4 separate regions of the Homo sapiens genome follow, and all the other regions are linked to region 1. The links come from fine-mapping of genetic effects on gene expression. A gene starts in region 1. Each other region holds a variant in brackets. All regions are shown on one strand. Distances are between the middles of the regions.

The links.
Region 2: its variant is fine-mapped to the expression of TM6SF1 in whole blood (INTERVAL, PIP above 0.99). The same link has a PIP of 0.9 or more in monocytes.
Region 3: its variant is fine-mapped to the expression of TM6SF1 in whole blood (INTERVAL, PIP 0.91).
Region 4: its variant is fine-mapped to the expression of TM6SF1 in whole blood (INTERVAL, PIP above 0.99).

Annotation. Positions count from the first base shown.
Region 1 is chr15:83,103,757-83,111,863 of GRCh38, forward strand. It overlaps TM6SF1 (transmembrane 6 superfamily member 1), which reads left to right and starts at 3,889. Exons shown (of 10, transcript NM_023003.5): 1 at 3,889-4,016. The coding sequence starts at 3,925. RefSeq lists silencers at 3,517-3,796, 3,827-3,946.
Region 2 is chr15:83,084,319-83,092,425 of GRCh38, forward strand. No RefSeq gene overlaps it. Among named protein-coding and RNA genes, the nearest start is that of TM6SF1, 19 kb to the right of the region's middle. The variant A/G (reference allele first, on the strand shown) is at 3,323.
Region 3 is chr15:82,810,890-82,818,996 of GRCh38, forward strand. It overlaps WHAMM (WASP homolog associated with actin, golgi membranes and microtubules), which reads left to right. Exons shown (of 10, transcript NM_001080435.3): 2 at 2,214-2,387; 3 at 5,803-5,953; 4 at 7,031-7,200. Among named protein-coding and RNA genes, the nearest start is that of WHAMM, 5.3 kb to the left of the region's middle. The variant G/A (reference allele first, on the strand shown) is at 4,897.
Region 4 is chr15:83,349,011-83,357,117 of GRCh38, forward strand. LOC105370933 (a long non-coding RNA gene) reads left to right here. Exons shown (of 3, transcript XR_932544.1): 3 at 1,381-1,576. Among named protein-coding and RNA genes, the nearest start is that of BNC1, 68 kb to the left of the region's middle. The variant C/T (reference allele first, on the strand shown) is at 4,493.

The DNA.
Region 1 (8,107 bases):
CAGGCACACATCACCATGCCCGACTAATTTTTGTATTTTTAGTAGAGATAGGGTTTCACCATGTTGCCTAGGCTGGTCTCAAACTCCTGACCTCAAGTGATCTGTCTGCCTCGGCCTCCCAACGTGCTGAGATTACAGGCTGAAGCACTGTGCCTGGCTTGCAAATATTTCTTGAGCACCTCCTATGTACTGGGCATTAATCTAGATGATGGGAATGGAACAATGAACGAGCCAGAGAAGGTTCCCAACCTCGAGGAGCTTCCATTATCATGGAGGAGAGATCCAGACCAGTAAACAAAGGCGTAAGCCAGATAATTTTAGATAGTAAAAGTACTCTGAATCAAATAAAGCAGGGCGCTTGATAGGCGAAAGTTCAGGAGGGTGGTCAGGTAAGGCCTTCTACAGCAGCTGAGTCAACTGAGGTCAGAGGCAGGAATCAGAGGGAGGAGACTAGGACATGTTTAGATGAGAGGCAGTATAGACCAAAACTAAGAGGAGGTGCGGATGGGGAGGAGCAAACAGACTTGAGTGATATTTGGAAAGTCACACTGGGAGAATTGTGTAACAAAAGGAATTCCGGAGAGGTGGGAACTGATGGCTCCCAGGCTTCTGGCTTGGGTGAGTGGGCGAATTGTGGTGCCACCAGATAAAATAAAGCAGGAGTGTGTCTTGAGGAAATGAGGAATTCTGTTTTGACATTGTGAGGTGCCACCGGGATGCCCAGGCAGCCATGCTAAGGGAATAACAGGTCAGGGCTTGTTATTTGGGATCTAGCATCATAGATGTGGCCATTAAAACCAAGTGTGTCTGAGAAAGAAACAAGAGAAGATGGTAGGCAAAAGAGGACACTCAGGGCCAGGTGTGGTGGTTCACACCTGTAATCCCAGCACTTTGGGAGATGGAGGCGGGTGGATCACCTGAGTTCAGGAGTTTGAGACCAGCCCGGCCAACATGATGAAACCCCATCTATACTAAAAATACAAAAATTAGCCGGGTATGGTGGCGGGCACCTGTAATCCTAGTTCCTTGGGAGGCTGAGGCAGAATTGCTTGAACCCGGCGGGGGGCAGGGCAGAGGTTGCAGTGAGCTGAGATTGTGCCACTTCACTCCAGCCTGAGTGAAAGAGCGAGACTTTGTCTCAAAAACAAACAAACAAACAAAAAACAAACAAACAAAAAAAACCCAGGACACTCAGGTTCAGGGAGCAGATTTCTAAATTGGAAGCTACTTGAGCCTGTGTCTAGGTTGAGCGGAAGGATCCAGGGCAGCCAGAGGGGTTCACTTATCCCAAAAGCCAGGGAAGGTTCCTGCGAAAAACTCTTCCCAACTACAAGCATTCTGACCACTCATATTTTCAGCATTAAGAGAGAAACTGGCCGGGCGCGGTGGCTCACGCCTGTAATCCCAGCACTTTGGGAGGCCGAGGCGGGCGGATCACGAGGTCAGGAGATCGAGACCATCCCGGCTAAAACGGTGAAACCCCGTCTCTACTAAAAATACAAAAAATTAGCCGGGCGTAGTGGCGGGCGCCTGTAGTCCCAGCTACTTGGGAGGCTGAGGCAGGAGAATGGCGTGAACCCGGGAGGCGGAGCTTGCAGTGAGCCGAGATCCCGCCACTGCACTCCAGCCTGGGTGACAGAGCGAGACTCCATCTCAAAAAAAAAAAAAAAAAAAAAAAAAAAAAAAAAAAAAAAAGAGAAACTGTTGTCAACAAAAAAATCATGTAATTCCCAATATGTATATCACAATACCTTGAAACTTTGCCATGTCACTTGGGTCCCTTGTGGGCTCTGAGGGAGCAGCTCTGAGACTGATGCAACAAGGTTGGGTGTTGATGGAAGGGATGGGCTGGCTTGGGAGCCTGGCTGGGAGCTCAGAGGTATAGGAGGAAGTGTCTCTTGTCAGGGAGGAAGTAGGAGTTTAAGGAGAGTGGTGAAGGTTAGGGGTGGAAGAGGGTGATGTGCAGGTGACAGGTGAGGACACCTCTTGGAGAAACTTTGGATATGTCACAGTGTGGGCCAAGGCTTAAACGTTATGCACTCAGAGCTGGAGAAGCCTTCAAGAAGAACTAGGATGAAGGATTAGGAGAACTGGCATTTGAAAAGTGGAGTGGCCCTGGAGCAGGCCATACCTCCTCGTAGCTCATTTTCCTCATGTCTAAAATGAGCCAAATGGTCTTTTAGAGGCTAGGTGCGGTGGCTCACACCTGTAATCCCAGCACTTTGGGAGGCCGAGGAGGGAGGATCACTTGAGCCCAGGAGTTTGAGACCAGCTTGGGCAACATAGTGAGACCCTGCCTCTACAAAGAAGTGGTGCGAGACTGTAGTCCCAGGAGCTAAGGAGGCTAAGCTGGGAGGATGGCTTGGCGTGGGAAAGTGGGGACTGCAGTGAGCCCTCATCTCTCCACTGCCTCTAGCCTGGTTTGCAGAGTGAGACCCTGTCTTAAAAAAATAAAAATAAAAATAGGCTGGGCGCGGTGGCTCACGCCTGTAATCCCAGCACTTTGGGAGGCCGAGGCGGGCGGATCACGAGGTCAGGAGATCAAGACCACGGTGAAACCCCGTCTCTACTAAAAATACAAAAAATTAGCCCGGCGCGGTGGCGGGCACCTGTAGTCCCAGCTACTCTGGAGGCTGAGGCAGAATGGCGTGAACCCCGGGAGGTGGAGCTTGCAGTGAGCCAAGATTGCACCACTGCACTCCAGCCTGGGTGACAGAGCGAGACTCTGTCTCAAAAAAAAAAAAAAATAAAAATAATAAATAAATAAATAAATAAATAAATAAAATAAACCCCTCAAATGGCAACAGCAAAAACACATAAATGGTCTCTTAAATTCCCTGGAAGTTGTAAAGACAGTAAGTACATGCCGGTACCTCCCTCAGTTGCTTGAGCTGTTCTCCTGGAACTCACTGCCCTTCAGATAGCCACAACACTTGACACACAATATTTTCCATACCCGTAGGCATCTATCATTCAGAGGAAGAGGCTTATCTTCCAGTCTTTGTACCCTGCAGGGCCCAATGCAGGCTGGCTGGTGGGCACCTGGCCTCCAGGAATGCTTCCTGGAATAGCAATGAATGGCGCTCTAGTCTCTTAGAGTCTCAGCATTTATGTCCATTTCAATTAAAGAAAAAAAAAAAAAAAGAATCGCAGGAGGTGGTGTAGTGAGCAGCACAGGATAACGCGCTTCGTAGGTATGAACTCAGTTAACCCCACAGTCACACTATGAAGTGTGTTATCCCCATTTCCCAGATAAGGGAAAAGACAGAGAGGTTAAGTAATTTGACCAAAGTCAACAGCTGGTGACTGGAGAGCCAGGTTTAAAAACCGGATGCCGGCTCCGTGCAGCAGCCCGCCGATGGCTACTGGAGCGGAGAGGTTCCGAGGTTTCAGGGGCATTTTGTCCTTTCCCACTTCTGGGCCGTGGGCTCCCCCATAGACGATCCCGCGGGCCCTTCCTCCTCTGACACCCTCGGATCTGGTTCCACCTTTCCCGGACCGCAGCTCAGCCCCGCGCCTCTCCAGCTCTTCGATGACCGGTTCCCGGCCGTGCCCCGGGCCCTCCCTCGGAGCGCGCGCCGCCAGGGGCACCTGTCCCTGCGCGGGGGTGTCGCCGCCCCTCGGCGCCGCCGGGCGCTTGCCGCTGAGCCGTGGCGCCCCTGGCAGGAGCACTGCAAGGACGCCTCCCGGGACTGCACCGCGGCCCTGCGCACTTGGGGCGACGGGGCCAGGCGCGGGGGACGGCTGCGGGCTGGGAGGGCGCGCGGAGGAGACACCGCTGAGGGGACGCCGCTGAGGGCGCCACGCGGGGGGCGCGGCTGAGGCGCCTCGAAGGGCAAGCGCCAAGGGGGCGCGGGCGCCGCCGGAAGCTGGGGCGGGGCGCCCAGCGGGATGCGGTGAAGGGCGAGCGGCGCGGCGGCTGCGATGAGTGCCTCTGCGGCCACCGGGGTCTTCGTGCTGTCCCTCTCGGCCATCCCGGTCACCTATGTCTTCAACCACCTGGCGGCCCAGCATGAGTGAGTGAGCCGGCGCGGCGGGGGTCGCGCCGAGGGGCGGCGGGAGTTGGCTCGCCGCGACGGGAGCCTCGCAACTTTTCCGAGGGGGCTGGGACCGTCCGCCGCGGGACAGAGGTTCGTGGCCGCAGGGGCTCCCCGCGCCTGGCCAGACTAGGGGGGCGCCCCAGGGGTCGCACGGGCCGGGTCTTGGAGCCGGGCCCTGAGGTGCCCAGGCTGGCGCATTTCGGGATGTTGGTGCCAGCACCGCGCCAGGTGCCCGGGGTCACAGGCGTCAATACGGCCATGCCCCTGCCCTGGAGGGGCCCAGGGGCCGGTGGGGAGCGGAACAAACACGGACACTACGAACCTGGCCGTGTCAGCTCGTTTGTGCCTTGTTCTTTTTGCATCTCACGGGAACGTTTCCATGTATGGACTTTCGCATACTTATCATTTCTTATTAATTTTAGAAACTGTTGTGAATGACTAGCAGAAATAGCCCGGAACCAACAGGCAGAGACGTGGGTTCTAGGCCTGGCTTTGGCACTGACGGTGTCTGGCCTGACGGTGTTTGGCACTGACGGTGTGGTCTGGCCTCGGTTTTCCGGTCAAGTGGACTTTGTGTGCGTCCTATTGTAAGGTTCCACCGAGACCTCTTTGTGAAGGGGCGTTGTGAATGGAGAAGTGCTTCCCAGTGCCTGCGCTGGGGTAGGATGGGGACAGGCAGCAGAGGCAGAACACTTCAATGTGAAGGAAATGGGTGGGGCTGATGGAGGGGGACAGGGCTTGGGTTCGAAGCCCTGCCTCCCACTCCACTGCAGGGATCACGGACTAACCTGCAGCCGGCAGCTGAAGGCCTGAGGGTCGCCGGGTGTTGGGACAGGCGCCAGCCTCTGTTCCTGCTGATGTTGGTTGCTGTCTGGAGGGAGGAGGAAGTAACCTGCTATGTCTCTCAGCTGTTGGTGCTAAGGAAATTGCATCAGTCTGTAGGCTGCAAACCCCCTTCAGCTGGTCAGGCCGTGGAGTGTCTGTACATAGGGTGGTAACTTCCTCCTCTCCAGCTGCCTGGCCGCCTGATACAGGCAGCACCCACACTGAGTGCTCACCAGGCACCAGCAGTGTCTACCCTTGGTCTGGCCCAGTCTCTGGAGGCATCCCCTGGAGGCAGCTGCTCTGGGCCACCGAATATTACATGCCTGTCAATATAGTGCATGGGGGACCCTGTGCTCCAAAAAATGGCATTACGGGTAGTTCAGTGAAGATATACTGAGTGCCTACTGTGTGTTTGGCACTGTTCCAAGTGTTGGTGACATAGCTATGAACAAGCCAGAAGAGGCTGTGGAGGCAGGTAATGAGATAGACATCAACAAACATTAATACATCGATAGTGACATGCTATGAAGATAATAAAATAGGGTGACTGGGGAGGGGGCTGGTGGCCAGGGAAGGCTTCTAGGAGGAGGTAACACTTGAGCTATGGGAAGATCTGGGAATGGAGCCTGTCGGGCAGGAAAATGGAGCAGTGCAGGGGAAGGAATTGGATGGGCGTAGTAGGTATTTTGGAAGGTGAACAGATGGGGCTTACTGAAGAGGGTTGCATGGCAGCAGAGGATTTGAGGATGAGCCCTAGGTTTTGGCCTCAGCCACTGGGAAGATGGTGATGGCATTTACTGAATACAGACTGAACTATGTATTGCTGTGCATGATGGAGCGCACTGGCAAGCACTACAGCATTTTGAATAATTAGTGTCAGCCATTCTTCCTGTCCTCTTGCAGGTTAAAACCCCCGTGGCCTTTGATTCCTCTCTTCTTTCTCCACTCCCTTCCTCCTACTGTCTGCTTCCCCATAAGTCCTGGGGCTCTAGTGTCTGTTCCCTCCTTTCAGTTCTCCCTGGCACTGGCCCTTTCTGACCTGGACTGTGGCAAAGGCTCCGGTGCAAGTCTCGCTGCCCAGCCCCGCTGCGTGTTTCTCGGCCTCGGCCCCCCAGTCCCAGCCCACGCACTAGTGCTCCTGCCGCACCAGCCTGCCTTTGCTCCTTGACCATTCCTCCTCCTCTCCAGCCTCTAGCCCGGACTCCTGCTGCTCCCTGACAGGGATGCTGCCTTCCTCCTATCGCAGACTGTTGAAGCCGCACCTGGACTTTATGGCCACTTCTACCTTCTGCAGACCCTCCCTCTCTCTCCTTTGAGCTCCCTCAGTCCCTTGTTTGCACCTTTCTCCCGAGAGTTACTTTCCTGTGGTAAGAACTTACCTGCCCCGGCTATAGCTCACCCCTCTGTACTGTCCTGCCCAGGCCAGCGCCGTGTGCATCGTAGGCACTCAGGTATGTTTGACTTTGTTGAATCGAGTTTCCTTCCCACCAAACCTTTTATGCAACTCTGAAAACCAGAAAAAGAAAATTAGATTGAGAGGTCAGGAAAGGATTGAGCGTGTTCTGTCTCCCTCTCTCACTGAGAGAGACACACTGCTCACACTCATCCTTGCATGTCCCCTCTCAGTAGGTGTCTGTTCATAGAAGGGCATCAGCAGCCCTTCCCACCCCCCAAGACTAGCAACTTTCTCATCCTGGGGTTAGTCGCAGCCCTTACCTGTCCCTGAGTCCCTGCAGGACCTGTTTCTTCCTGTGGTGAGCAGGTCCTGCACTTGGCTGTTGTAGGAGGGTCTCTGGGGACAGTGCCAAGAGTCAGAGACAATCTGCTGCCCTAGTTTCCCTTCATTCTTCCCTCCTCTCCTGGAGCTAAGAGCATGAGAGGACGCTGTGAACCAGTTCACACTGCTCTGTCCTGCTCCAGAAGAGCACCAACCACGCGATCCTGCTGGCAGTGAGTGCAGGCCCTTGGTAGGAGTGAAGACTGGAGTTGTCACCTGACCACCACCTGCCTCAGGCTGTTCACCATTAAAATGCCTGTCAGCTGACCCAGCACACCCACCTCTTCCCTCATGGGATTCTTCAGCCCAGCATCATACTCTTGACCCACACTGGCTTCCTCCTTCTTCAGCTCATCCCCACAGGAGGAGCCTGGAGCAACCACTGAAGTGCAATCACCAGAAACCTCCTATTTTTCAGTTTCTCACCTGGACATTGAAACAGCCACCCTCATTCTTTTTTAAAAAATGTAATTAATTGTTATTATTTTTTGAGACGGACTCTTGCTCTGTCATCCAAGCGGGACTGCAGTGGTGCAATCTTGGCTCACTGCAGCCTCCAACCCCCAGGTTCAAGCAATTCTACTGCCTCAGCCTCCCAAGTAGCGGGGATTACAGGCATCCGCCACCTCGCCTGGCTAATTTTTTGTATTTTTAGTAGAGACGGGGTTTCACCATGTTGGCCAGGCTGGTCTCCAACTCCTGACCTCGGGTGATCCACCCGCCTCGACCTCCCAAAGTGCTTGGATTACAGGTGTGAGCCACTGCGCCCGGCCTCATTCTTATCATAGAATTGATCCATCTATCATTTATCCATCCATCCTCCATACATTCACCCATACTCCATCCATCCACTCATCATCATCTATCCATCCATTTATCCATCATCCTCCATCATCCATCAATTCATCCATCATCCATCCATCCATTTATCCATCATCCTCCATCATCCATCAATTCATCCATCATCCATCCATCTATTCACCCATCATCCACCCATTCACCCATCATCCATCCATCCATTCATCCATCATCTATCCATTCATCCATCATCTATCCATCCTTTCATCCATCATCCATCCAACCATTCACCCATCATCCATCCATCTATCCATCCACTCATCGTCTATTTGTTCCCCCCTTCCCTCCCTCCTTCTATTCTTATCTTTCTCTCTCCTAGGGGACGGTGATAGTTATCCAAAGGTCCCGATGTTGGGCTGTGGTGGTGTGGAGGGGTCTCAGTTGAGGAGTGGTGCTTGTAGCTGCTCCAATCTGAAGAGGTCCTGGTGTAGCAGGCCATTGGAGTGGGCCAGGTAGTATTTTGTCTAGAATTGGAAGCCCTGTCAGTGCTGGAGGTGTGAGAGGGAGAGTATTGCTGTTGGACTGCAGGAGAACTCCTAGTGGGTAGAGCTCAGAGTCCATTGAGATAGGTTCCTCCATGTAGGCAGGGACTTCTCTTATTTATCCA
Region 2 (8,107 bases), 19 kb before region 1:
CCAGAATGTGGCCCCAGGGGAGCTCATTTCTTCTGTGCTCATGATTTTTTTCTAGGACTTCTCAATGGATAAGAGCTGAGATGGTGAATATTAGGGGAGGAGATATAGTAGGAGATGAAGAAAAAACTACTTTCTCTAGGTCATTTTTCTATTTTCAATAGAAAAAATTTTCTATTATCAATCATTTAGTGTATATATATATATTTTTTGAGACAGAGTCTCTCTCTGTTGCTCATGCTGGAGTGCAGTGGCATGATCTCGGCTCACTGTAACCTCCACCTCCTGGGTTCAAGCAATTCTCCTGCCTCAGCCTCCCGAGTAGCTGGGTCTACAGGCGTGCACCACCATGCCCAATTGATTTTTGTATTTTTAGTAGAGACGAGGTTTCACCATGTTGGCCAGGATGGTCTCTATCTCTTGACCTTATGATCCGCCCGCCTTGGCCTCCCAAAGTTCTGGGATTATAGGTATGAGCCACCACGCCCAGCCTAGTTTATATTTTTGATTTTAATAACTAATACATCTGTTAAAATACCTTTATAGTTACTATAGATGTATAATACATCTGTTAAAATACCTTTATAGTTGCTACAGATGTATAGTACATCTGTTAAAATACCTTAAGAGTTGCTACTGAACGCATCGTGGCATTGCCAGTCTGGGTGAGGTAGGTTGCTGCCATACCTTCCCATGAGTTACAACCTGGGTGCCCGTGCCTAACTCTGATCTTCTGGTTCCTGTGCCAAGGTTCCCACCAGAGATGGAGGGTGACAGTGGTTGCTGGGCAGGAGTTGGGGAGACGGGCCAAGTGAGGCCCAAGGCACCAGGGGGTAGGAAGCAAGTGGCTTGGGTTGGTCCCTGGGAAGTGGGGAGGCAGCAGGAGGTGGGACCCTCCATGAGCCAGGGTGCAAGCTCCAGTGCATGCCCTGTTGTTTCATCAGACTTCACTTACAACACACAGATTCAAAGATCAAATTACTAAGGGCCAGGCACAGTGGCCCACACCTGTAATCCTGCACTTTGGGAGGCCAAGGTGGGCGGATCACTTGAGGTCAGAAGTTCGAGACCAGCCTGGCCAATGTGGGGAAACCCCGTTTCTACTAAAAATACTAAAATTAGCCAGGTGTGGTGGCACACACCTGTAGCCCCAGCTACTTGGGAGACTGAGGCAGGAGAATCACTTGAACCTGGGAGGCAGAGGTTGCAGTGAGCCAAGATCACACCATTGCACTCCAGCCTGGTGACAGAGCGAGACTCCGTCTCAAAAAAAAAGAAGATAAAATGAGTAAGAATTTTTCAAGATGGCAACTGCAAAGCACTAAACCTCAAATAGGGGGCTCTCCAGAGCACAGGGCCCTGTGAGACTGCACCTGTCCTATGTCCATGAAGCAGTCCCTGTCTATACAGTACGTGGTAGAAGTTTTTAGAATATGGTCTGGGGTCCTGAGGATCATGGAGACCCTTCAAGTGATTTGTGAGATCAAAAGCATTTTCATAAAAATACTAAGACATTTTTGCCTTTTTTACTCTCATTGTCTCAGGAGCGTGCAGTGGGGTTTTCCAAAGGCTACTTGACTTGCGATACTGAAACAGATGGAATGCAGAAGCAGAGAATCCTGCTGTCTCCTATTAAGCCAGACATTGAAGAGTTTGTTTTTTTGTGTGTTTTTTGTTTTCATTTTTTTTGTTTGTTTTTTGAGACGGAGTCTCACTCTGTTGCCCAGGCTGGAGTACAGTGGTGCAATCTCAGCTCACTGTAACCTCTGCCTCCCAGGTTCAAGCAATTCTCCTGCCTCAGCTTCCTGAGTAGCTGGGATTATAGGCGCATGCCACCACACCCAGCTAATTTTTGTATTTTCAGTAGAGACGGGGTTTCACCATGTTGGCCAGACTGGTCTCGAACTCCTGACTTTAGGTAATCTGCTCGCCTTGGGCTCCCAAAGTGTTGGGATTACAAGCGTGAGCCACTGCACCCAGCCTTTTTGTAGGGCTTTTTTGTGTGTGTGTGTGTGTGTGTATTCTTTGTGGTTTTCTATATATAGGATCATGTCATCTGTTAATAAAGATAATTTTACTTCCTCCCTTCCAATTTGGATGCTTTTTTTTTTTTCTTTTTCTTGGCTAATTGCTCCATCTAGGAGTTCTAGTACAGTGTTGAATAGCAGTGGTGAAAACAGGCATCCTTGTCTTATCCCTGATCTTAAGAGAAAAGTTGGCCGGGCACAGTGGCTCATGCCTGTAATCCCAGCACTTTGGGAGGCCGAGATAGGTGGATCACCTGAGGTTGGGAGTTCGACACTAGCTTGACCAACATGTAGAAACCCCCGTCTGTACTAAAAATACAAAATTAGCCAGGTGTTGTGGCACATGCCTGTAATACCAGCTACTTGGGAGGCTGAGGCAGGAGAATCACTTGAACCCAGGAGACAGAGGTTGCGATGAGCCGAGATCGCGCCATTGCACTCTATCCTAGGCAACAAGAATGAAACTCCACCTGAAAAAAAAAAAAGAGGAAAATTTTGCTTTTTACCATTGAGTATGATGTTAGCTGTGTTTTTCATCAGGTTGAGGATAGTCTCCTTCTATTCCTAGTTTGCTGAATGTTTTATCAAGAAAGCCTCAATAATTTTTAAGAACGTGGAGTGTCCGTGAGACCCGTTTGAGAACTGCAGATCTAGAGTATTAGTTAAGAGCAAGGGCTGTAAAGTTAGTCTACCTGGTTTTGAACTGCAGCTGGGCCACTTATTTGCTATAAGACCTTGGCCAATTTACTTAACCTTTCTGTGCCCTAGTTTCCTTACTTGGAAAATAGGAATGACGATAATAGTAACATGATCTACCTCAGAGGGTTAAATTAAAATGAGATGAATACATATTAGAACGGTGCCCAATGTAGGATAAGTGCTCAACAAATGTTAGCAAGTATTCAAAGAACCAAACCAATTTCAATACTGGCTGACAATTTCTGTATTACTCTTTTCCTAAAGTCTACCCTACAAGGATTTAATAATTTGACTTCACTTTTGATTAACACAAGATGCCTCATTTTTCAAATTTACATTTCTGTAATTGTTATTGTTTACATTTTTGTCATAGTTGTTTTTCTTCTTAATCCATTTTAACTGTCCAATTGTGCTTTTATTATTAGCTGTCTTACCCACTGCTTTGATACAGTCAAATATAAGATAAATAACTAAATTTAGGCCAGTTTATACCACATTATCAAGGCTGTTGTTGTGTCAATAAAAATAATAATAGGGCTCCAAGGACTGAAATTATCTGTCCCACATGTTCTGAATCTTTTAAATAATCTATGAAGACT[A/G]GGCACAGTTGCTGTGATTCTACTGCAGTGATATAAATATGACCTTCCACGAAAAAGCATGTCATGGCCAGAAGTAAAATTCAAAGCAGCAGGTTGGGTTTCAGAGTCTACGATGCTAGAATATGCTGCCTCTCTGGTTACAGGGAAATAAATATAGACCAGACTGATTATGTGAACACATTTTATTTAACTTTGCCCATCTTTACTCATTTCCCAGCCAACAGAAACTAAATCAACCCAGCTATAAGTAGGTCTGCTTATCTCTTTCCTTCCAGCCTCAGAAATTTCCCTTCTTTTCAAGGCTAAATTTTCCATCTTTGCTGTTGAGTTTATTCCCTTGCTGTCTTGCTAAATTACCTGTCCATTTTTTTTTCTTTTTTTTTTTTGAGACGGAGTTTTGCTTTTGTTGGCCAGACTGCAGTGCAGTGTTGCGATCTTGGCTCACCACAACCTCCATCTCCCGAGTTCAAGCAATTCTCCTGCCTCAGCCTCCTAGGTAGCTGCAATTACAGGCATGCGCCACCATGCCCGGCTAATTTTGTATTTTTAGTAGAGATGGGGTTTCTCCACGTTGGCCAGGTTGGTCTCGAACTCCTGACCTCAGGTGATCCACCCGCCTCAGCCTCCCAGAGTGATGGGATTACAGGCGTGAACCACCGTGCCTGGCCTGTCCATTTCCTTTCTGGTGACTTTGATGTCTCCATTTCCACTGGTTCCTTTCCTTGATATCCACAAATACATAACTAATTTCCCTAACAGAAAAACATCTCCTCAAAGCCTCTGCTTCAGCTTCTGAGTGTCTTCCTTTCTTCTTCCTTCCTATCAAAGTTTCTTCACTCCACATTTTCATCTCCTCACAGTCTTCATGCCGCTGTGGTCTGGCTCTGGCCACCACTCCCCTGAGTGGCTCTAAGGCCACTGGCTGGTGATCTCCTACCTGCCAAGTCCATGAGTCTTTTTCTGTCATGTTATTTGACCTCACTGGGCTTGGTGGTTGACCATTCACTCCTTGAAACTCTCCTTACCTGGAATTTGTAACACAGTTTTATAATTTTTCACACTTGTCTTTCTCTAATGTTTTCTTTTCAGTTTGCTGTATCACAACCTCCTCTTCTGCCCCACCGTGGGCACTGGTATTACCCATGCTTCCATCCTTGGCTGTCTACTTCCTACTCTCAACCCACTTTCTGCTTAATCTCATGGATTCCCATGATTTCAGCTAGTGCTGGTGATCTCCAAAGCTGTATCTCCAGCCCTGATCATTCTTAGCATAATACTTGTTTTGAATATTCAAACATCTAGAAATCTGTTGGTGTCCTACAGACATGTCAAACTGAACTGACTACATCTCCTTCCCTGGAGCCTCTTTCAATTCCTTGTAAGTAAATTTCTGCTACCTTAAAAAAAATCCAGCCAAAATCCTGGTAGTGAAGCGGGAAGAATGTCTGGCTGTCTGACGATAGCCTGTGGCCTCAACAGATCATTTATATAAGAATGTGACAGAAATGTGCTAGCTATGTCATACAGTTGTGTCCAGAGATGAGGGGAAAGAGTTCATCACATTCCTATTTCAGGGAATAACACCACCAACCAGTTAGCCACATGCTGTGGTAGAAACTAGCTAAGCCCCAGTTGCTATCCTGCTATCCTGGTCTACTCATCAATAGCTAGGTGAATTTGGGCAAGGATTTTTGTTTGTTTGTTTGTTTGTTTGTTTGTTTTTAATTGAGACAGAGTTTCTCTCTTGTTGCCCAGGCTGGAGTGCAGTGGCGCAATCTCAGCTCACTGCAATCTCTGCCTGCTGGGTTCAAGTGATTCTCCTGCCTCAGCTTCCTGAGGAGCTGGGATTACAGGTGCGCGCCACCACGCCCAGCTAATTTTGTATTTTTAGTAGAGACGGAGTTTCACCATGTTGGCCAGGCTGGTCTCAAACTCTTGACCTCAGGATATCTGGCTGCCTTGGCCTCCCAAAGTGCTAGGATTACAGGCGTGAGCCACTGTGCCCGGCCTGGGCAAGGTTTTAAACCTTGCTAGGTTTCTATTTCTTCTTCTGTCAAATGGGGATAATAACATTGTTGTTTACCTACCTAGGATAACATAAAAGATCAGATTGTTCAATTAGACTCACAGGACTCAGTAATCTTATCCAGTATTGGCCTTTACTGAGAATTCGAAAGATACACATGATATTGAGACTTGGGCCAAGCACAGAGATGCTGAGGACCACCAGTGCAGCTCCCGGTCCTCTCTCGCCATATTAGGATGCACCCTGGCACAAAATGGACATAGGAGGTTTTTAAGTGATGCATGCAGGATATAACTTACACAAAGAGGTCAGGAAACACCTTCGTTTTATACTTCAGTAATTACACAGCTGACAGATCAGCTATATCCTGGTAAATTATTGCATAAATAAGGGCTTTTTGTTATCTTTCTGATTGTAAATGCCATCAATAAGTATTTAGGAGATTGGGCCAGGTGTGGTGGCTCACGCCTGTAATCCCAGCACTTTGGGAGGCTGAGGTGGGCGGATCACAAGGTCAGGAGATTGAGACCATCCTGGCCAACATGGTGAAACCCTATCTCTACTAAAAATTAGCTGGGCGTGGTGGTGCCTGCCTGTAGTCCCAGCAACTCAGGAGGCTGAGGCAGGAGAATCGCTTGAACCTGGGAGGTGGAGGTTGTAGTGAGCCGAGATTGTGCCACTGCACTCCAGCCTGGCAATAGAGTGAAACTCTGTCTCAAAAAAAAAAAAAGCATTTAGGAGATTGACCTGGGTCAATTCTTTTTTCTTTTTGTCCCCTTTCCTCAGATGTTCTGAAGGTTGGAAATATGACTTACTACCATTACCTAACAGTTATTTCTTCTTCTTTCCTAGTTAATACAACCTGATTTCATTTGGGCCACAACATGTACAAAGAAGGAATACCTGTCCCCAGGCCTCAGAGAAAAGTCATGATTGATTGAAGCTTAGCCCGTTCCCCTGCTAGAGATTGCTTCTGAACTCAGCATGTGGCCAATTATGGCCAATGAGATGGAAGAGTCTGGAAGCAGGCTTTTGGAAAGATTCTTGTAGCCTAGTTAAAGATAAAATCCCGGAAAGGGAAAAGCCTTGTGTTGACAAGCTTAAGAGTGAAAAACCAACGTGTTGAGGAGGAGGATTAGGAAGACATAAAGAGGCCGGGTTCTTAATGACATCCTTGAGCCACTGCAGCTAAAAAGGAAACTTCTTTCTCCAGGATTCTTATGTCAGATTTTCAAATGTCTTCATGGCTTAAACCAGATTTATGCATTCTGTTACCTGTAACTTCATGTGTTCCCAGTGAAAACAGTACCTTGTAGAGTTGCTTGAGAATCAAGACAGGCACTGAAAGTAATGCGTCAAGCATACAACAAGTTTCTATCTTATAAGCACTACCCAACATCTTTTTCTCCTTTCTTCCCTGGTTTATAAAACTTGATTTTATTTGGGCAGCCACAAGCACAAGGAAGGAGGACCTTGTTTCCAGGCCTCAGAGAAGAACCCAAATAGGTCTCAGCATCTCTCAGTATACCTTAGTCCTTTTAGTTCCCTTTCCTTTTCCTTCTCCCAGCCAGCTGTCATCCCTAAATTCTTCTGTGGTCCATGTTTCTCAACATCCATTTAATCATCAAACTCTTAGATTTGATTCCTAATTAACCTTTCCTTTCTCCTTTCGTTGCAGCCGCCATAGTCAAGACCCGTTCATTTGTAGCTTAGATTACTGCTCTTCTCAGCTCTTTGCTGCCTAGTTCATACCCCCTCACCTCATTCTCTGTATATCTACCAGACTAAGCTACTAAAATGGCCAAGCTGAGCATGTCACTCCTCTGCTTAAAAGTTTCACTAGGATGGGCGCAGTGGCTCACACCTGTAATCCCAGAAATTTGGGAGGCTGAGGCGGGCAGATCACCTGAGGTCAGGAGTTCGAGACCAGCCTGGACAACATGGAGAAACTCCATCTCTACTAAAAATACAAAATTAGGCCGGGCGCAGTGGCTCATGCCTGTAATCCCCGCACTTTTGGAGGCCAAGACGGGCAGCTCACAAGGTCAGGAGTTCAAGACCAGCCTGGCCAGCATGGTGTAACCCCGTTTCTACTAAAAATACAAAAATTAGCCAGGCATGGTGGTGTGTGCCTGTAGTCCTCAGGAGGCTGAGGCAGGAGAATCGCTTGAACCTGGGAGGCGGAGCTTGCAGTGAGCCGAGATCAGGCTACTGCACTCCAGCTTGGGCAACAGAGTGAGACTCCATCTCAAAAACAAACAAACAAACAAACAAAACACAACAAAATTAGCTGGGCATGGTGGCAGGTGCCTGTAATCCCAGCTACTCAGCTACTCAGGAGGCTGAGGCAGGAGAGTCACTTGAACCTGGGAGGCAGAGGTTGCAGTGAGCCAAGATCACGCCATTGCACTCCAGCCTGGGCAACAAGAGGGAAATTACATCTCAAAAAAAAAAAAAAAAAAAAAAAGGTTTCACTAACCTTCCTCCCCCGGCCAGGTGGCTGGGAGTTCCTAGATTATGCTGTGGGATTATAGCGTCTGGGCCATTCTACCTGCTCTAACTACCTTTCTTCTGAAAGGCACTCTCTGCCCTGGTCTTTCAGGGTTCACAGTCTCTATCTAACTAGCCTGCCTCCCTAGCTGAATTAATCACTCTCTCCTGATGAGGTTCAGGACATGTTACCCCAAAAGATAGCATCTTGGCATTTGAGAAACAGCAGAATTAGTAAGGTCACTCTCACCTCCCTCTTGCCCTTCTTT
Region 3 (8,107 bases), 290 kb before region 1:
CTTGAAAGAGGTAGTTTGAGAGAGAGTAATTATTTGAGTGGTAAACTTACTGAACCTAAGGGGAGGGGAAGTACAAGTTCACAGAAGGGTTTAGGAGAAAATATGCCTTCTAAGTCCACACCCACAGTTTATTAAGGAGAGCCAGGCTGGAGTCTCGGCTCACTGCTGTTATTAACCTGAATGATTTTTTTCTGTGCATTCTTCTGAGGAAGGGGAAGTGAAGAGAAGAATTCAGCCTAAGCTAAATGTAGAATAAGCTTTCCAAATTAAAATGGTTTTATAAAAGGAGCTCGTTAGTGGGGTCATTTTTGTACTGTGGGTTTTATGTGTAAATATCTACACACCCACTTCTCGTGTTGATTTCACTTTAGAATATGAGGAAACCACAGGGGAGTTTCAGGCCAGTCAGCGTTTGATCTTCAACTTTATCGTCTTCACCTTAGGATATGAGGAACCCACAGGGGAGTTTCAAAAATGATATCATTTTGTATCAGACTTGTTTTTTACACACTCGGTTTCTCACAGAGATAGGTGGTTTCTCCTTAAAATCGAACATGTTTATGATGTATTTTACTGTAGTAAATACTATCAGAAAAGTTATAGTTTTCCCAAATTTAAGTTCACTCTGGGGTACTATAGCATGAATGTAGTTCATACTGTTGAGCTAGCCGTTCACGTTAGTGTAGTTCACATATTTATCTGGAACTTAAAAATGAGGGGTTGGGAGAGGAAGCTTAAATTCAAAACGTGTTCAAATATATAATTTTAATATTTAGAATGGAAAAGCAATTGATTCTAGAATTAGACCAATTGCTAGTATTGCTAGGATATATAAAATGAAGCTGAATGTTTTAACTCTGGAATTTTTCTGAATAGTTTAAGAAATAAGGCTGAAATGTATCACTTGCCTTAAGTTTACTTTTGCGTGTGTGTTTTGATTTTGTTCAGTGAGGCTTTCACTTAAAAAAAAAACCCATAATATTATTACCTGGATAAAAAACTATAGCTGAAAGTAGATCACTTTATCCTTAAGCAGAAGGATGGAAATAGGAGAATTTAAGAATGTATTGGTTGAAAAAAATCTATATTATTTGATTTTATTTCTCTTCTTCTGGGAGTAAAATAATTTCCTGCCAAGTGAGTCCACCTAGATTATACACTGTTCAGTTTATTTTCTGCCCTGCAGCAGAAGCAGTAACCAGCAGAGACTGGAACCACAGTTGAGGCTCTGTAAATGAGGTGACTGCTAAGGGCTTCATGGGAATATTAATCTGGGGCATTAAGAGAATCAACATGCTGAAGTACTTGGAGACAGCTCTGTAATGTTTTATGAGGTCTTTTTTTAAAATTTTTTTCGAGATGGAGTCTTGGCACTGTCGCCCAGGCTGGAGTGCAGTGGCGCCATCTTGGCTTACTGCAACCTCCGCCTCCCGGGTTCATGCTATTCTCCTGCCTCAGCCTCTCCAGTAGCTGGGACTGCAGGCGCCCGCCACCACGCCCGGCTAATCTTTTGTATTTTTAGTACAGACAGGGTTTCACCGTGTTAGCCAGGATGGTCTCGATCTCCTGACCTCGTGATCCGCCCACCTCAGCCTCCCAAAGTGCTGGGATTACAGGCGTGAGCCACCACGCCTGGCCCTTACGAGCTTTAAAAAGGAATACAGCCTCACAACACCTTTACAGTCAGAAAAGTGAAATGAAAAAATATCCACAACCTCAAACCTTCTTTTGGGTCCCTTTCGCTGCATACTTAGTGCATAGTTGAGATTAAACTTTGCACTCTGCCTCTCCATTTAATATTATAAAAGTGTCTTTTTTTTTGAAATGGAGTTTCCTTCTTGTTGCCCAGGCTGGAACCACTGTCTCCCAGGTTCAAGCGATTCTCTGCCTCAGCCTCCCCAGCAGCTGGGATTACAGGTGTGAGCCACCATGCCTGGACAAAAGTCTCCATATTATTAAACAATCTTCAGAAGCACAGTGCTGAATGACTACAGTAATAATATTCTTACATGGATATATCATACTTTTCTTAACCATTCTTGTTTTATTGGGCATTTTTGATGGAGGATGATAACATTTTCATATTTAATCAGTATTTAAAATTGATGTATTAAAAGTTGAGAACATGAAGGTTTCTTTTGTTTAGTTTTGTTTGTTGGGTATGTATTAAATATACTGTCCTGACTTGAGCTTTATTCACATTTGCTTTCTAGGTTATTCAAGGACACGGAAAAGCCAACACCATGGTAGCATTAATGAACGTTTACCAAGAGGAAGATGAAGCATACCAGGAATTGGTTACCGTGGCAACCATGTTCTTCCAGTACTTATTGCAGCCATTTAGGGCTATGCGAGAAGTTGCAACTTTATGTAAGCTTGATATTTTGGTATGTTTTTTTAAAATTTTTACTTTATCAGATTTACTATTTGTCATAAATTATTTCTTTATTTACACTTAATGTTCAATCTCTGTTTGTACTTTGTTTGGGTTTACCATTATGTTTATTTATTTACTTATTTATTGATAGAGATGAGGTTTTGCCATGTTGCTCAGGCTGGTTTCGAACTCCTGAGCTCAAGCAGTCTGTCCACCTTGGCCTCCCAAAGCACAGCATTACATGTGCCTAGTTTACCCTTATATGTACATATTGAGTTTATATTTAAAATTGATAGAAAATGAAGACATTTACGTTGGTCATCTTAATAGCTTAAGATTCCTACAGATTTGAAAGAGTTAAATGTTTTTTCTGGTGATGAATTTTTTTTTTTTTTTTTTTTTTTTTTTTTTTGAGACAGGGTCTCCCTTTGTCAGCCAGGCTGGAGTGCAGTGGCATGATCTTGGCTCACTGCAACCTCCTCCAGGTTCAAGCGACTCTTCTGTCTCAGCATCCTGAGTAGCTGGGATTACAGGTGTGTACCACCACGCCCAGCTAACTTTTTTTGTATTTTTAGTAGAGACGGGGTTTCACCATGTTGGCCAGGCTGGTCTTGAACTCCTGACCTCAAGCGAGCTACCCATCTCAGCCTCCCAAAGTGCTGGGATTACAAGCATGAGCCACTGCACCCAGCCTGATGAATTGTTTTTGATGTGATATTTATTTGCTTCAGCTTGTTTTCCTCTAAGGACTTACGCAGATTTCTTAAAATAAGATGAAAATTTAAATAGCAGGACCCTAGATTGTAATTCAGTAACTTAAATTTTAGTAAATGCTGTTATCACTCTTGCTTCATTGAGCCATCAGACAACCCTGTGACATCATTCAGAAAAGGCATGCTTATTCCAGTGTTACAAATGAATCTAGAGTCCAGAGGAGTTAAACAGCTTGCCTTGGGTCTCAACAACAGAAATCAGAAGACACCTAAGATGTCTCTTGGTTTCTGCCCCCTGCACCGGGCCATCTTTCCACATATAATCTCATGACCCTTGCCAGATGATTGTATTATAAAAATAGTATCACATTTAGATGAGAGTCATACCACTCTAACCTGTGGATAAAGTTGTTCTGTTCATTATTTTGAAAGTCTATTATTTGGAAAGTCTACTTCTTGCATACATTTTTCCTTTCTTCTTTTTTTTTGAGATAGAGTTTTGCTCTTGTTACCTAGGCTGGAGTGCAGTGGCGCAGTCTCAGCTCATCGCAACCTCTGCCTCCTGGATTCAAGCAATTCTCTTGCCTCAGCCTCCCGAGTAGCTGGGATTACAGGCATGTGCCACCACGCCCAGCTAATTTTGTATTTTTTTAGTAGAGACGGGGTTTCTTCATGTTGGTCAGGCTGGTCTCGAACTCCCGACCTCAGGTGATCTGCCTGCCTTGGGCTCCCAAAGTGCTGGGATTGCAGACATGGGCCACCACACCCAGCCTATATTTTTCCTTTCTTTTTTTTTTTTTTTTTTTTTGAGACAGAGTCTCGCTCTGTCGCCCAGGCTGGAGTGCAGTGGTGCAATCTCAGCTCACTGCAACCTCTGCCTCCTGGGTTCACGCCATTCTCCTGCCTAAGCCTCCCGAGTAGCTGGGACTACAGGTGCCCGCCACCATGCCCGGCTAATTTTTTTGTATTTTTAGTAGAGATGGGGTTTCAACATGTTAGCCAGGATGGTCTTGATCTCCTGACCTCGTGATCCGCCCGTCTCGGCCTCCCAGAGTGCTGGGATTACAGGCGTGAGCCACCGCACCCGGCCTGTTTTTCATAAAAGGTGTTTTAAGATATCACTCACAGATTTTATATATATATATATATATATATATATATATATATATATATATAGTACAATTCAGTGATTTTTAGTATATTCAAAGTTGTGCAGTGATCATTACTGTGTAATTTCAGGACATTTTCACCCCCAAAAGAAACCCTGTACCCTTTAGTCACTCCCAACCCTGGGCAACCACCAATCTACTTTCTGTCTCTGTGGATTTCCCTACTCTGGACATAGCAACAGCATTATTCAATATGTGGTCCTTTCACTCAGCACAATGTTTTCAAGGCTAATCCACGTTGGAGCAAATATCAGGATTTCATTTCTTTTTATTGCTGAGTAATATTCATTGTATGGATATATTACATTTTATTTATCAGTTGATGGACATTTGGGTTGTTTCCACTTTTTGGCTATTATGAATAATTCTGTGAATGTTTGTGTGTAAGTTTCTGTGTAGACATATGTTTTCATTGCTCTTGTGTATGTACTAAGGAGTAGGATTGCTGGGTCCTGTGATTACTCAATGTTTAACCTTTTGAAAGACTGCCAGACAGTTTTCCAAAGTGGGTGCATATTTTATATTCCCAAAAGCAGTAAATGAGGGTTCCGGTTTGTCCACATTATCACCAGCACTTGTTACTGTGTGTCTCTTTGGTTACAGCCATCCTAGTGGGTGTGAAGTGGTATCTCGTTAT[G/A]GTTTTGATTTGTAATTCCTTGTCGGCTAACTTGTACATATTTCTTAGGCTTTGTAGAAGAAAAATTGCATATTGGATGACATAGCAGTACACGTCTTAGTTCAGGCTGTTATAACAAAGTACCGTAGATTAGTGGCTTATAAACAACAAAACTTTTTTTTCACAGTTCTGGAGGCTGGGTAGTCTGAGATCAAGGTGCTCACAGATCCATTGTCTTGTGAGGGCCAGTTTCTTAATTTGTAGATGACTGTCTTGCTGTGTCTTCGCATGGTGAAGAGCAGAGAAAGAGAGATCCTGTGTCTCCTCTTCTTTTTATAAGGGCATTAATCCCATTCTTGAGGGTTCCACCCTCATGACCTAATTACCCCCCAAAGGCCCCATCTTCAAATATGATCACACTGGGGATTTAGGCTTCAACATATGCATTTTGGGGGGAGTCCAATACCAGTACATGTTATAAGCATGAATATACAGATACTATATTTTAGGTGATTATATTACATATCCCTAAAAGAAACAGTAACAACAGCTAATACTTAAGTGCTGTGTTCCAGGCCCTATGCTGAGTGCTTGACAACACAGATCACTCATTTAAACAATTGTGTATTATTATTAATAGAAGCATAAGTTGACAACATTCCTCTCTAGAAAAAGTTATTCTAGGCATGTGAAGTGAAAGTGGGTTTTTTTTTCGCTTTATGCCCCAGAGTGTCCTTTTGTCTTACAGGTGGTGCTCAGCTTAGAGCCTTATTCATACGCAGTAAGGGACTGCTGAATGAATGAAAATTTAATTGACTGAGTAGTAGTGTAGTTAAATTAATCCATGTGACCAATTTCCTTTCAATTTCCTAATGGCTCTACATAACTATTAGCTCTTACTAAGAAAATTTTCCCTTCTGTCTGTAGAAGTCTTTGGATGAGGATGACCTAGGTCCTAGAAGGGTAGTTGCCCTGGAGAAAGAAGCTGAAGAATGGACCAGACGGGCTGAAGAAGCTGTCGTCTCTATTCAGGATATCACAGTGAATTATTTTAAGGAGACAGTAAAAGCATTAGCAGGTGATAATTTAAAAAATGCTATATGAAGATACATGTAATTGATTATCATTTTATTCAAATACCATTTGAGTCCCTCTTACGCACTAGGTACTATGTTTTCTAGGTGCTGAGAATTCAGTGTCAAGCGTTAAGAGACGTTGTACAGTCTGGTGAAGGGAGAGAAATCTTAATTATCTATTCATTGAAGCACATGGAAAATGGCAGTGACAGTAAATGGCACAAAGAAGAGAGACATGGGCTCTGAGGGTCTGTGAGAGAGAAATTGGGCTTGATCAGGGTGGTGGTCACTGAAGGCCTCTGAGAAGTGGCGCTTGCCCCAATATCTGAAGGGTAAATGGAAGTTGAGAGAAAATAAAAAGTGAGGAGTATTCCGGGCAGAAGGAATAGCACTGCCAAAAGTCCCCTGCCTTGAGGGAAGTTGGCAAATTAGGAGCTTAAAGAAAACCTGCGGGGCTGGATCGCAGAGAGTGCAGGACAGTGTGGTATGAGGGAAAATGCTGGCCAGACAGGCAGGGGTCAGACCATGCAGGGGCTTGTGGGCTGGGTGAAGGACTTTTTTTTAGTCTTAAATAATTGTTGATAAAAACACCAAGTAGGAAACAACTTAACGTCTGTCAGTTTGTTAAGTTATGGTACCTTCATAAAACAGAAAACTACGTAGCTGTTAAGCATGATTCTTGATTTTTTTTTATGAGTGGCAAGAGTTTCTGATACATTGTGCAGAATCAACAAGATAGAAAGCAGAATGATGATCCTGGTTTTGTGGTCAAACTATCCATATGAGCCTGTCTGTCTAGCTAGACATAGAAACAATATGGAAGCAAGTGTGCCAAAATATAAGAAGCAGTTGCCTCAACTAGGTGAGATCATGACTTACTGTCTTTTTAAAAATGGAATACCTAAAATTTTATATCAATGAACATGTATTATTTTTATCATAATAAAAAAGTTAATAAAATTTCTTTTAAAAAGGATATTCTGCAGGTAGTATGGAGGCAATAAAAAAAGGATTAGCTCATGATAAATGTTTCCCTTTTTAATGAGGTGTAATTATATTTTATTTTTATAATCCAACAGGAATGCAGAAAGAAATGGAACAGGATGCGAAGAGATTTGGTCAGGCTGCCTGGGCCACAGCAATTCCCAGGTTGGAAAAACTTCAGCTAATGCTAGCTCGAGAGACTCTGCAACTCATGAGAGCGAAAGAGTTGTGTTTAAATCACAAAAGAGCTGAAATTCAGGGAAAGGTAAGACAAAGATAAACATAACTTTGTTTTAAAAATACACTTTTATTTTTAAAACATTTTGTATAAATAAAGGATACAAGTGCAGTTTTTGTTCCATGGATATATTGTGTAGTGGTGAAGTTTGGGCTTTTAGTGTAATCATCACCTGTATAATGTAATTGTACCTATTAAATATTTCTCATCCCCCCTCCCACCCTCTTACTCTTCTGAGTCTCCAGTGTGTATTATTCCACACTGTGTATACACATTACTTAGCTCCCACTTATAAGTGAGACCATGTGGTAAAGCACACTTTTATTTTTAGATAGCACTTTTCTTTCCAGGCATCGTTAAAGAGCTTCTTTTCTTCGCTTATTCCAACACCATCTTCTGTGGAAGGTTAGACATAAAGTTTTCCTTTGGTTAAGATGTTTCAAAATACCATATTGTAGGTTTCACTTTATAGTAATACCAAGCTCAGTATTGAAATGGGTACTGTACTTGAAAATCAACCCAGCAATGTTTTCACTACAACTTTAAAATAATCAAAGAGATACTTCACTGCATAGTCACTTAAATTTTTTCCTATAATCTTATGACTTTAAAGCAGAAAACACTGTAAACACCTGTCTTAGTTGGCTCAGGCTTCTATAACAAGATTAAATATCACAGATTGGGTGGCTTAAACAACGGACATGTATTTCTCACAGTTCTGGAGGCTGGAAAGTCCAAGATCAAGGTGCCTGCAGATTCACTGTCCGGTGAGGATCCTCTTCCTGTCTGGTAGACAGCTGCCTTCTTAACTGAGTGCTCATATAGCCTTTCTTCTGTGTGTATGTTTAGAAAGAAAGTGATCCCTCTCTTTCTCTTCTAATAAAGGCACTAATCCCATGATGGGGGTGCTATCCTTTTGACATAATCTGAACTT
Region 4 (8,107 bases), 250 kb after region 1:
GTCCTCCCAGGCTCAGGTGATCCTCTCACCTCAACCTCACTTGGCTGAGTGTAGTCAGCTGGGACTACAGGCGCACACCACCACATTTGGCTAATTTTTGTATTTTTTTGTAGAGATGGGGATCCACTATGTTGCCCAGGGTGGTCTTGAACTCCTGGGCTCAAGCGATCCTCTTGCCTCAGCCTCCCAAAGTGCTGGGGTTACAGGTATGAGTCACCACGCCGGCTTCTTTGCCTAATTTTATATAAGGTTGTCATTTTATTGATTTGAACTTGCTTGAGTGTGTTTGCAGTGCTTTTCAATCATGGCCACACACTAGAATCACCCAGGGAACTTTTAAATAACAGGCCCCACCCTGTGAAATACTCTGATTCCAGTGGGCTGTGGTGATGTCCAGGTGTTGAGTTTTAGACTTTCTAGGTGAGTCTGATGTGCAGTCAAGGTGGAGAGTCCCTGGTCCAGGTGATTTAGATAGCAGTGGGTGATTAGGTAGGCTAGAACGCAGGGTCACAGGGAATAAGAAGTCAAGGAGCTAAGAGGCCAGGGTGTTGGAAGAATTGTGTATATCGTTGCATCAGTCTGCTTGCGCTGCTGTAAGAAAATACCACAGGTGGATTGGCTTCAACAACAAAATTTTATTTTCTCACAGTGTTGAAAGCTAGAAAGTCCAAAATCAAAGTCTGGCTGTTTTCCTAGCTTGCAGCCAGACACTTGTCACTGTGTTCTCAAATGGCAGAGAAAGAGGGTGCTCTGGCCACCCTTCATTTTCTTCTGAGGACACTAATTCCATCTTTGGGGTCCCACCCTCATGACCTCATCTAAACCTAATTACCTCCCCGAAGGCCCATCTCCAAATACACATTGGTGGTTAGGGCTTCAACATAATACATTTTAGGGGGACACGTACTTTCAGTCCATAACAGTGGTGTCCACTATTTCATTACTCATGTTGTAATTTTGAGCTCATTATCTTTTTGTCTTGAGACTTGTTGGTTTTGCTATGTTAATCTTTCTTCTATTGTGCTTGGTTCTCACCTCTGTTCTGTATATTCACTCCACTTTCATTTGTTCCTCTTCACAGTCATATCAGTCACAGGTTCAGAGGGCAGCCCATTTGTAGGACCCCATTCATCCGTGTTTACCCCCAAATTAGGAGTAGAAACCCACATCTGGTCATTGGAGATTAATGGATAAAATACTTTTAGATTGCTTATTCTCAGGCACCCTCATTAGACCTGTACAGTACCCAATTTTTTGGAGAGTTTTTAGGAGGCTGGGTTAGGTAAGAGCAACTAGTTTTGAAATAGAAGTAGGTGTGCATGCCCTGGAAGCACAGGAAATCCTCAAATCTGACAAGTGATTTCATAATTTGATCCAAAGCGCCATAGGCTGAAGGCAAGGAGGACAAGTGCAGTGAAAATCAAAGGAAGAGGCAATATGGGGACGTGGTATGCACCCTGCAGAGAAAAGCAGAGGATCATCCTAGCCCAGCCTTGCCACCAACTTGCCAAGGGGACCTGGGCCAGCACTGGCCCACCCTGGACTCACTTTATCCTTTGGTAATAGAAGGGGCTGGAGGGGTTTCTGAGGTCTCTTCCAGCCCTACATGCCTTTAACCAGGAGAACAACATGAAACTCAAAACTCTGCATTTAGAATTTAATTGTCCATGGATACAGTAAAGTCTACATAGGTATCTTCTCTCTGGTTTATAATTTTTTTTTAAGTAATTAAATCCTTAATTCAGGAGAAAAGAATTGGGACAACTGGGTCTAAAGTGTGTAGCTTCCGCATCTTTACATCTGCCTGTGGTCCTAGTCGTGGAATATTTGCCAAACAGTAACCACTTTGTTGAGGGCATTTTACCAGGTAATGATGTTTAAAGTGCAGCATAGTGGCTTTCAAATATGAATACTAAAACATTTAAAATATGCACACATGACATATAGTTCTAGAAAATTTCAAGGAAAGGAGGGTTCTATAGTACCAAAATTTATTCACCAATTTCTTGCCTGCCTTCCTTCCTCCCTCCTTTCCTTCCACGAATATATCAGCATCTTCCATGTGCCAATCATCTTAGTTTGCCCGGGACTTTTCCAGCTTTAACACTGAAAGTCCCGGGTTCTGGGTACCCCTTAGTTCTCAAATAAATGGGGACAGTTTTTCAGGCACTGTACAAAGCACTGAGTATATAGCAGTAAACAAACAAAAACCAAACAATTATAATAGCTCGTCTATCCCAGGCATTATTTTAAAGACAAAATTTATGAGTAACATAATAAATCATCCTTTACTCTATCATATACTTTTCCACAAAGAGCTCCTAAATTTGACTTCAAATACAAGTTCCCAGATTACCAAAAGGTAGTTCTATTGTATTTGAATAGGGTAAAATTAAAACACTGAGATTTATTTATGAAGTAATAATTAACAAAATGTGGAGTTGTCGCAGTACAGTGAAATGGCTAGTTCCCATATAAACTCAATATCTATTCAAGACTGTATTAATGACTTAAAGCTAACTTTAAATCATTCTTTCACCTTTTTCTTCAGCAATCAGTTTAATAGCCACGCAATTGAAAATGTCTGAACAAAATGCTATAAAGAACCGTTCACTGGCTGGGCACGGTGGTTCACGTCTGTAATCCCAGCACTTTGGGAGGCCGAGACAGACGGATCACGAGGTCAGGATATCGAGATCATCCTGGCTAACACGGTGAAACCCCGTCTCTACTAAAAAATATACAAAAAACGGGCTTGGTGGCGGGCGCCTGCAGTCCCAGCTACTCGGGAGGCTGAGGCAGGAGAATGGAGTGAACCCGGGAAGCGGCTCTTGGCAGTGAGCCGATATCGTGCCACTGCACTCCAGCCTGCAGCCTGGGCGACAAAAAAAAAAGAACCTTTCACTAAAATATAATATACATCCACGTTTTAACTATACAGCTCAATGATTTTTACACGGTGAAAACACTGCATCATTTTAAAGTACTTGCATGTACACCATCTCACTTAACTTTCACAGCCATTCTGGAGATAGGCAAGACAGATGGCATTATTTACAGTTCAAAAACTGAAGCCCAGGCAAATTAAATGGCTTGTGCAGGATCACTCAGCTAGTAAGAGGCATAGCTGGGATTTGAACCCTGGTCTCTGGGCTCTTATTGTCAACTCCTGGTCTCCATTTTCTATGCTGGAGTAATACGTAAACAGCAGAAAGAATGAGGAAGGAGGGAGGGAAGACAGAGAAACATTACTAAGTCACATTTCTGGGCAGTAGGGCACTAAAGAGAATCACTCTGCTTGTTTGCTTTCAGTCAAGAAAAATGTTTAGATATTCAGCACAATCAGACTTAACATTGAGACCTCTTTCATTAAATTTCATCATATTCTATAAACAGTAATTTGTCCTCAAATATTCCCAGGGTGATGTAGACAGAACAAATAAGACAGAGTCCTTCTTCAGTGTTAAGACAATAGAGGACAAAGAAGATTAAGAATGCACAGTCTTTCTCGTGAGGACTTTGCAATTTGTAGGTGAGACAGTATGCAAATGGCTGCATTTCGAGAGTGATGTAGTGCCAGAAAGGAGAAAGAAATTACCTCTAGAGAATACCATAGAGGCAGCATTCATGGAGTTGAGGTAGCATGTGAGCTGGGCCTGAGAGGCATTTCATCTGAGAAGGCAGGGAATGGAGGTTCAGGCAACAGGACCTGAGTCGGTAAAGGCATGGGAATGGGGGTGAGGGTGGGGAAAGAAAGTAAAGGACATTTGTTGCAGAACAGTGACTTGTCAATTTAGCTGGGAAGCTGTACTGAAGGAAGACCACGCTTTGGTTCCTTTAGCACATCAAATGCTTTGCCTAGCCGGTCCAACTCCCATCGTCGCTATACACACCTTTGTTTATGCAATCTACTTTCTCCCAAGAAGCTACCTGAGGGAACCATGGAATTATATACCTGGCAGTTTGAGAACAAAGGTAAACAAAGGGCAGACACAGCCTGAGGTCATAGAGTGAGCTGGTAATAACATCACAAATTCCTAAAGGGAAGGGTAGTCTGGTTGCAGCTGCAAACGCCTACAGGAAGGAGGTAGGCACCTACTCCGGTTCCAGCACGCTCCATTTAATATGCTTTTTCTGACCATGGCAGCAGATCTGGGTACCCAGGAGAGTCCTTCCTTGCATCTAGGTTTGAGTTCTCAGTAAGAATCAAATTTCCTGCAAGGAGATTCCTCTCAGGGACCCAAGGGCACCTACAAATCGTCAAAGTCATGAGCAAATAGGCTTCCTCTTGTTCCTTATCTGTCATGAAACAGTTGCTCCCTTTAGTAGATAACCTTTTTGGATTAAATTGACGTCATCTGTACAGATACAAATTTAAATAGCCATGCATGTGAGAGAGATAATCATGATGTTCATGTATGTCAGGCAGTGTGCATTTCATTAAAAAAGAGAAACTAGGCCGGGCCAGTGGCTCACGCCTGTAATCCCAGCA[C/T]TTTGGGAGGCTGAGGCGGGCGGATCACGAGGTCAGGAGTTCGAGACCAGCCTGGCCAATATGGCGAAACCTTGTCTCTACTGAAAAAATACAAAAATTAGCCGGGTGTGGTGGCGCGAGCCTGTAGTCCCAGCTACGTGGGAGGCTGAGGCAGAAGAATCGCTTGAACCTAGAAAGCGGAGGTTGCAGTGAGCCAAGATTGTGCCACTGTGCTCCAGCCTGGGTGACAGAGTGAGACTTCATCTCAAAACAAAAACCAAAAAACCCCCCCCAGAAACTAATATAGAACTTAGAGTTCATTAATGCAGCCCATGATAAAGTAAGTTTTTTTCAGCATCCATAAATAAAGTTTTATTAGAACACAGCCATACTTATTCATTTATCTATTTTCTATGGCTGCTTTTATTTTTATAATTTTTTTTAAGTTCAGGGGTACATGTGCAGGTTTGTTACATAGGTAAACTTGTGTCACGGGGGTTTGTTGTACAGTTATTTCATCACCCAGGTATTAAACCTAATTCCCATTAGTTATTTTTCCTGATCCTCTCCCTCCTCCCACCCTCCACCCTCTGACAGGCCCCAGTGTGTCTTGTTCCCCTCTGTTGTGTCCTTGTGTTCTTATCATTTGGCTCTCACTTATAAGTGAGAACATGCTACCACATGGTTTTCTGTTCCTGCGTTAGTTTGCTAAGGATAATGACCTCCAGCTCCATCCATGTCCCTACAAAGGACATGATCTCGTTCTTTTTAATGGCTGCATAGTATTCCATGGTGTATATGTATTATGACTGCTTTTATGCTGTAACAGTGAAGTTGAATAGTTGCAACAGGACTACCAAGTATAACATATTTACTCTGTGGCCCTTTGCAAGAAAACTATGGTAACCTTGGTCTAAGAAAACAGTCAGTTTCGGTTAGGATCCTGTTTAATCCTTGTGACTTTACAGTTAAGTGGTATTAGGAACATTTTGTAAGCCTGGTGCGGTGGCTCATGCCTGTAATCCCAGTACTTTGGGAGGCCGAGGCGGGCGGATCATGAGGTCAGGAGATCGAGATCATCCTGGCTAACATGGTGAAACCCCGTCTCTACTAAAAACACATAAAAAATTAGCCAGGCGTGGTGGTGGGCGCCTGTAGTCCCAGCTACTCGGGAGGCTGAGGCAGGAGAATGGTGTGAACCAGGGAGGCGGAGCTTGCAGTGAGCCAAGATCACACCACTGCACTCCAGCCTGGGCGACAGAGCGAGACTCTGTTAAAAAAAAAAAAAAAAAAAAAAGAAAGAACATTTTGCCAAAGAACAGGGTAAATAAATTGTCCAAGGTCACATAGCTAGTAGGGGGAAGAGCCAGCCTATCCCTACAGCCTGTTCTCTTTCCAATATATCCCATTATCTAGTATTTATTGGTTTTGTGGGGGTGTTACCTTTAAAAAAATTTTAGAATCGGGGGTACGTGTGCCTAAGTTTTAATAGAATAGGAAACCAGAACTGAAAGCTTATTTCTGTGTTCATAATAACTCTAAGCTTCAAGGGCACATTCCCTGCTGTATCCTCAAGGCTTAATGAATGGTTGAATTACTGAATAATTCTTCTTTTTTTTTTGAGACAGAGTCTCACTCTGTTGCCCAGGCTGGAGTGCAGTGGTGCGATCTTGGCTCATGCAAGCTCCGCCTCCTGGGTTCACGCCATTCTCCTGCCTCAGCCTCCTGAGTAGCTGGGACTACAGGCACCCGCCACCACACCCAGCTAATTTTTTTGTACTTTAGTAGAGATGGGGTTTCACCGTGTTAGCCAGGATGGTCTCGATCTCCTGACCTCGTGATCTGCCCGTCTCGGCCTCCCAAAGTCCTGGGATTACAGGCGTGAGCCACCACGCCCAGCAGAATTACTGAATAATTCTAAGTAGAAATTCTAAGAAATGATTCTAAGTAGTAGGAACACATCCTGACTCTTGAGGCTGGTGAGAACTTTTTGGTTAGATTAGAACACATTCCATCATTCGTTTCCCTCCTATTTTCACTCAGTGGTTCACAGGCTTTCCATGATAAAACTAGTGTTTTTGGAACATAGAAAAGCACGTGCTGGCTGGGTGGAGTGGCTTATGCCTGTAACCTCAGCACATTGGGAGGCCAAGGTGGGAGAATTGCTTGAGCTCAGGAGTTCAAGACCAGCTTGGGCAACGTAGCAAGACCTTGTCTCTACAAAAAATTTGAAAATTAGCAGGGCATCGTGGCACGTCCCTATGGTCCCAGTTTTTCAGGAGGCTGAGGTGAGAGGATTGCTTCAGCCTGGGAGGTTGAGGCTGTAATGAGCCGTAATTATGCCACTGCATTCTAGCCTGGGGGACAGAGTGAGATTCCGTCAAAAAAAAAAAGAAAAAGAAAAAGCATGTACACCACACAGACAGGCATTCACACACTCTGTCACATAAGTGTTTCCAAGACTGGAGAGGCTGGAGTCACTGCTTAGTGGTGGTTTACATAGGATTTTTTTTTTTTTTTTGAGACGAAGTCTCGCTCTTATCCCCTAGGCTGGAGTGTGATGGTGCGATCTCGGCTCACTGCAGCCTCCGCCTCCCGGGTTCAAGCGATTCTCCTGTCTTGGTCCCCCTGAGTAGCTGGGATTACAGGCGCCCGCCACCACGCCCAGCTAATTTTTGTATTTTTATTAGAGACGAGGTTTCACCACATTGGCCAGGCTGGTCTCGAACCCCTGACCTCAGGTGATCCACCCGCCTCAGCCTCCCAAAGTGCTGGGATTACAGGTGTGAGCCACCGCGCCCGGCCTACATGGGATTCTCGACTGCCCAGCAGAGAAGTCTGATTGGGATTCCTGAACACACTACCTGCAGTCAGAGAGGCTGACCTGCATGGTGACAAAGGCTGACTGCTCACTCACGACAGCCAGCATCTCTTCTGGGTTCCACTCAGGGGCATATAGGATCAAGGCCCTAATTCATGCCCCATAGGAGCCGATTCCTCACATTAGTCTCTCCAGACCCAAGAAGATGCCCCCCCCGCCCCCAAACTCAATTTAAAAATAGTCCAAAAAATACACTTCTCATTAGATTTATTTTTCTTTCACATCATCCCGCAATTTTAGTTCATGCACACAGCGCAGCATAATTAAAACCAAACTCAGGCCTTGCCTGAAAGTCAGCCCCGTTCCTCTGAGTCATCATCCCCCAGCTCAGCTAACAGACCTTCATCTGGTGAGGGGTCCACCGGGGAGGGTTGAGGCAGGAAGGCAGGAGGAAGCGTGGGTCTGGCTGGAGCCTCACAATCAAAGCCTCTGTTCAGTTGTACCTTCCCCTCTTCCCTCCTCCACCGTCCTCTTCTCTGGTTGGGACTCTCTTAAAGCAATCATGTCTTCTATGAAAGGCAAGGCCTGTTGGGACATGAAGCAGCCATGGAAGGTCCTCCAGGCAAGATTTCCCATAGAAAGTTTGGCCAAATTCATAAATTAAGTTGAAAATTCGATCCTGTTTGCTGCCAAGTGGGGCTAATTAATTTCTGTACAGACTGATGAACAGGAAGCACACTATTCACATTATTTCATCAACAATTAATTCACTAAGCTCAGATTCATTAGTTTCCTGGCATTCGCCATCCTAAACA